Linked DNA regions of Homo sapiens: region 1 is linked to region 2. Evidence: fine-mapped expression QTL. A gene starts in region 2. The other region holds a variant in brackets. All regions are shown on one strand. Distances are from middle to middle. Region 1 has its middle 200 kb from the start of ARAP2. Region 2 holds the start of ARAP2 (ArfGAP with RhoGAP domain, ankyrin repeat and PH domain 2).

The links. PIP is the estimated chance that this variant, and not a neighbour inherited with it, causes the effect. A credible set is the group of variants that fine-mapping cannot tell apart.
Region 1: its variant is the best candidate, but not a certain one, in a credible set for the expression of ARAP2 in whole blood (TOPMed, PIP 0.62).

What each region holds. Positions count from the first base shown.
Region 1 is chr4:36,043,919-36,046,835 of GRCh38, forward strand. It overlaps a transcript of ARAP2 not described here. Among named protein-coding and RNA genes, the nearest start is that of ARAP2, 200 kb to the right of the region's middle. The variant A/G (reference allele first, on the strand shown) is at 1,278.
Region 2 is chr4:36,242,787-36,245,703 of GRCh38, forward strand. It overlaps ARAP2 (ArfGAP with RhoGAP domain, ankyrin repeat and PH domain 2), which reads right to left and starts at 1,728. Exons shown (of 33, transcript NM_015230.4): 1 at 1,393-1,728. LOC439933 (a long non-coding RNA gene) reads left to right here and starts at 1,330. Exons shown (of 5, transcript NR_122079.1): 1 at 1,330-1,425; 2 at 2,386-2,524. RefSeq lists a silencer at 1,524-2,103.

The DNA.
Region 1 (2,917 bases), 200 kb before region 2:
AGAAAGAAAGAGAGAAAGAAGGAAAGAAAGAATTGAATTGTCTGAGATACGTATTTCAAGTAATTAGTGAATATATGATATTTGAGGTAATGCTTCTGGATGACATAACTCAGGAAATGCGCACCAGTATGGAAGAGAAGCACTCAGAGGAATAAGCAAATGAACATTTCGTGGTTTATGTTTACATTTATTTAGCATGTAGTGTCCCGTTTACCAAGTGAAAAAGGATGTGGAAAGAGTGATCATAAACCACCGATGTCAAAGGCCACTGAATAAATGAGTTATCCAAGGTATGAGAATTAGACAATTTATTTGGCAAACTAGAGGCCATTCATGATCTCGATTAGAAGTAGTTTGTTTCTTTGGTGGTGATGGGTCTGATTAGAGAAACTTCAAGAGAAAAATGGAAGTAAACAAGACACTGTAAAGAGGATTTTAAAAGTGGTTTGCTATTGAGATATTGGGAGGTAGCAGCAGTAGAATATGGTGTCAAGAGAGGGAGTTTGTGTTTTTCTGTCATTTCTTTTTTAGGTTAAGATGGAAGCTATTATAACATATTTGTATGCTGGTGATAATTGGCTATTCACTTGCTGAAACTGGACCTTTACCTCACCCCATATATAAGAATCAACTTAAAAGAGATTAAAAACTTAAGTATATGACCTGAAACTGTAGAGGAAAACATAGCAGAAAAGCTCCATGGCATTGGTCTGGGCAATGATTTCTTGGATAAAACCCCAAAAGCACAGGCAACAAAATAAAAATGGAACAGACAAATGAGACTAGATAAAACTAAAAAGGTTTTGTATAGCAAAGTAAACAATTAACAGGATGAAGAGACAATCTATAGAACAGGGGAAAATATTTTCAAATTATGCATCTGATAAGGGGATAAATTCAAAATATTTAACAAACTCAAACTACTCAATAACAAGGAAATAACCCTGCTAAAAAAAAAATGACCAAAGAACCTGAATAGACATTTCTCAAAAGAAGATATAGAAATGGCGAACAATAATATTAAAAAAAAGTGCTCAACATCACTAATCATCAGGGGAATACAAAGTAAAACCACAACAAGTTTTCAACTCATCATACCTGTTAGAATGGCTATCATAAAAAAGATGTGTTGGTGAGCGTGTAGAGGAAAGGAAACAATATATATTGCAGGTAGGTATGGAAATTAATACAGACATTGTGGAAAACAGTATGGAGTTTCCTTAAAAAACTATAAACAAAACTATCATGGTATCCAGCAATCCCAGTTCTGGGTATAT[A/G]TCCAAATAAATTGACATCAGTATGTTGAAGAGCTATCTGCACTCCCAAATTCATCACAGCATTATTCACAGTAGCCAAGCTATAGAAACAATTTAAATATCCATCAGTGGATAAGTGGGTAAAAAAACATGGTATATATTCACAATGGAATACCATTCAGCCTTTAAAAAGGAGGAAATTTTGTCCTTTACAACATCATGTATAATCTAGAGGGCATTATGCTCAGGGAAGTAACTTAGGCACAGATAGATAAGTACCATGTAATATTACTTACATGTGGAATATAAAAAAGTTGAATTCATAGAAATACAGAGTGGAATGGTGGTTATCAGAGGCTGGGGGGTTGGAAAGAATGAGGAAAGAGGAAATGTGAGACAAATGGTACAAAGTTTCAGTTAGGTAAGAAGAGTAAATTCTTCTAGTCATCAATTACACAGGATGGCAACTATAGGTCATAATAATGTATTGTATATTTCAAAATTGTTAAAAGAATCGATTTTAAATGTTCTCACCACAAGGAATGTATAAATATGTGAGGTGATAGATATGCTAATTAGACTGATTTGATCATTCTAAAACATATACATGCATCATAACATCACATTGTACCCCAAAAAGATATGCAATTATTGACAATGATCAAATTAAATAAATAAATAAATACAGAAAAAACTCAAAATGAATGGAAAATTTATAAAGTAAGAGAGGGGGATAAGAGGGGGACAATTGTCAGAGAAGTTTACCTATAAGGAAATTAAGATACAAAGCATTGAGAAACTTACCCATTTCCATAGCTGTTAAGTTTTAGAGCTTCAGTAAAATTTCAGAATGCCTCACTCCAGAGATTCCTTTGTTAATTTCTACTCTATGTTGTCTTTTCCTGAGTAGAGGAGGGAATAATTAACCAGGTCATTGTAAACTAGGCATATATTGCAAAATATATTCATTGTACCAGCCTATAGGTAAGTGAGCTCCTGACCAGTATTCTCTCTCTCTCTCTGTTTTGAGACAGGGTCTTGCTCTGTCACCCAGGCTGGAGTACAGTGGTGCAGTCACAGCTCACTGCAGCTCCACTTCCTGGACTGAAACAACAATACTCAGCCTCTTGAGTATCTGGGACTACAGGCTCATGCCACAATGGCTGGCTAATTTTGTTATTTATTGTTGTTTTTTGTACAGATAAGGTCTCACTATATTGTCCTGGCCAGTCTCAAGCTCCTGGGCTCAAGGAATCCTCCCACTTCAGTCTCCCAAAGTATTGGGATTACAGCTGTGAGCCACTGCACCTGGCCTATAGGTGCAGTGAGCCACTGCACCTGGCATATAGGAATTTTAATGGGCATAAAATTCCTATATGGATGTTAAAAAAAGTTCTAATGCAGACCACAGAAAGAATCTATTTTGAAGTGCTGTAGAAAATTAAAGGCTATCATCCCCAAAAGTTGTATGTAAGAGGAGCAGGCAGCAGAGCTAACCAGAGCCCTGGCCTACAAGCCTAAGCAAAAGCACTCACCCATCACAATAGGAAGGCAGAACAAGGAAACCAAGAAGTGTAAGCTTTTCTTTTCTTTTCTGTCCAGGCCAGAGTAGAGCAAGTTCACCAAGTTCAGCAAAATCTCCAAAACAGTGACAGTGAGAC
Region 2 (2,917 bases):
CACAAGCACACACCCATATAAATACGTTTTAACAAGCTCTCTCACTTACCCTCTAGGTACATTTTAATTCAAATAAATCTTTGAGTACTGACAAATCTATATAAAACCCTCTTCGTGTTAGGAACCACCTTAAATGTGTATGTGTTAAATATGTTTAGAAAGAAGCCAGGAAGATATTTGCACTTAACCCTAGCCTAGTTCCATGACCCACTTTTTTTTCTTCTTTAAACGTTGTTGGACAAAAAATGTCATGAGTATTTTCTCTCAATATTTCTCCTGTAAGTGTATGGAAGTCATAAATAAGAGTTAAAAAAAAAAGAGTTTAAAGGTATTTCTCTTTTTTTCCTTAAAAAAAGTTAGCTTGCTTTTTATCTTCCAATTACTTACGGGCAAAGTTCCATGGGCCTGTGGGGGTGTAGAGTGCTTAAGTGCAGATAAATCAATACTGAGCTTGTAAGTACAATACTATTATGAGTAATAACAATGACATCCTATTAAATGTACTTTTAAAAATAGCTTATTTTCAATACACTTCTTGATTTTTTTTAAACCGAAGGCTGTATTCTACTGAACAGCCTACTTCAAGGACAAGCTTGCAAAAAAAAAAAAAAAAAAAAAAAGAATTTGCTATCAGGATACCTACTTACAACACCCTAAGATGTCATTATTCCACACAAATTAGCTTATTTTCTTGTGTTTTCCTCTAATTATCAAAGGCTATATAATCCACGAACCCTTTCCCCAAATCAAAATAACTCCAGATCACCTCAAGGTAGGAGGTGTTTAAGAAAACAAGCCAGAATTAGATAAAGTAAAACTTACTTTATTAAATAGGATGGACACCACTTCTCCCAAGAGAACTGTCTCCAAAAGTAAACAAGAAAGATCAATCTGGTAAACTCACATCATACAGGTTCCCGTGTAAGGTATCGGGTTCAGGCAGGTGGAAGCCAAATGATCGTAATTAAAGTTAATTAACAGGCCAGTCGTCTTAACGTGGTTAACAAGCAGGGTGCGGGGCAGCACAGACACCCGGGCAAATTCATGATCTCTACCGAGTAAATAACTTGGTGCCTGAAACTCACTACAGCTTCTTCTTATTTAAAGGTAGGGGAGAGGAATGGAGGGAGTGTCCAGCTGTCTATCCGGATCCTCACCCTCCCGGGTCAAATCCCAGAAGTGGAGTTCTTGGATCACTTACCGGCTTCTGGTTTCCTTTCAGACGCCCACACGCGGGAGCGAAATCCAAGGGGCGGACACCAGAGCCGAGCACTTTGCGCTGAGGAAATTTACCCGGTGAAGTGTCGAAAAGCCCCAGCCCCTCCAGACAGGGTCCTCCCACCCCCGCGTGGGCCATCCCGGCCCAGCCTTCCCGAGGCCCCGGGTACTCGCCTTGCGCTCGGGTCGCGGAGTTCGAAAAGCGAGGTGAGGCGGCGCTGGGAAGCTCAGCGCCGGCGTCTCTCCCAGCCTTGGGCGCTCGGTCCTCGCCCCTCTGCCGGAGGCGCCAGGCCTCCTCTTTCCCGGTCCCCGCCGGCTGTCCGCAGTCGCCTCTGCTGCCTGGCGGCGGCCGCGCGGGCGGCGCTGTTAGTGGGGCCGGCGTGTCGCGGCCGCCGCACCTGGAGGCGGGGAGCGCGGGCCGCGGACCCGCGCTCAGCTCCGGAAACGCCGAGCCCGGCGCCCGCGCCTTGCTCAGGTGCTCCCGCGCCTCGCCTCGGCCGCCGCTTCCTCTCCGCCCGCGGGGGCGGGGAGCAGGCGCCCCGCGCGGGGGAAGCCGGAGCTCAACGGCGGGGGCGGCCCAGCCGGCCTCCCTGGTTCCGCAGCATAGTTGGGTGACTGACTCAGACCGCCGCGACTTGGCCGCGCCTGGCACCCTCGCCACCTGGCGCACCTCGGCCCGGAGGCGTCAGACCCCGCTGGGGAAGCTGCGGGGGCGCGCCCTGGAGCCCAGAGCGACAGGGGCATTACCCACCTTCCCGGGACGGAGATGCCCAGGACCTTGTGTTGGCTCCTCCTGGCCAGTGGGTTTGTCTGTGCGCACTCATGGGGGGTTGAATGTCAAATGGGCGGAACCTCGCCACGACTGATTATTAGTATTACTCTTCCAAGTACTTAAAGTGTTAGCTCAGCGTTTCCCAAACTGAAGACTCATCTAGGGCACTATTTTCCCCAGGCTGCTTCTATGTAAATTTGCTCCTTCTTGCACCTGTGGCGGTTAGATCCCAGAGGGGCATTTCCCCTTTGAGTTGGACTCTGACAAAGGAGGCAGCGAAGGAAAATAGGGGATCCCAAAGAACCCTTGTGGACCTCCAAATATCTAAGCGTCCGTAAAATCCAGTTATTTGCAAGTGAGTTCACAGACCAACTACTTTTTTTTTTTTTTTTTAGACAGGGTCTCACTTTGTCACCCAGGCTGGAGTGTAGTGAGGCAATCTCAGCTCATTGCGCCTCCGCCTCTGGGTCCAAGCTATCCTCCCACGTCAGCCTCCCAGGTAGCTGGGATTACAGGCGCGCACCATCAGCCAAGGTAATTTTTTTTGTATTTTTGGTATAGACGGAGTTTCGCCTTGTTGCCCAGGCTGGTCTCAAACTCCTGACCTCAAGTGATCCACCTGCCTCGGCCTCCCAAAGTGCTGGGATTACAGGCGTGAGACACTGCCCCCTACCAGCTTTTTTTTTTTTTTTTATAAACATCTCCCACAGACTACCTGAAATTCTCTTCATTAAAAGGTGAAATGTATTTATCTTTCCCCTGTTCCTGTTGATGGAAGTGAAGCAATTAAGGAAAGCGCAGACCTTATGAAAATGAGATAATTGGTGAAGTGCGGAAAGAGAGAGGCTTCCCACAAGCCTGGGCCCTTAGGATTCTTCAGTCATCACCTTCACCCACACTAACTACCTGCCCAAAGCACCGTCTTTC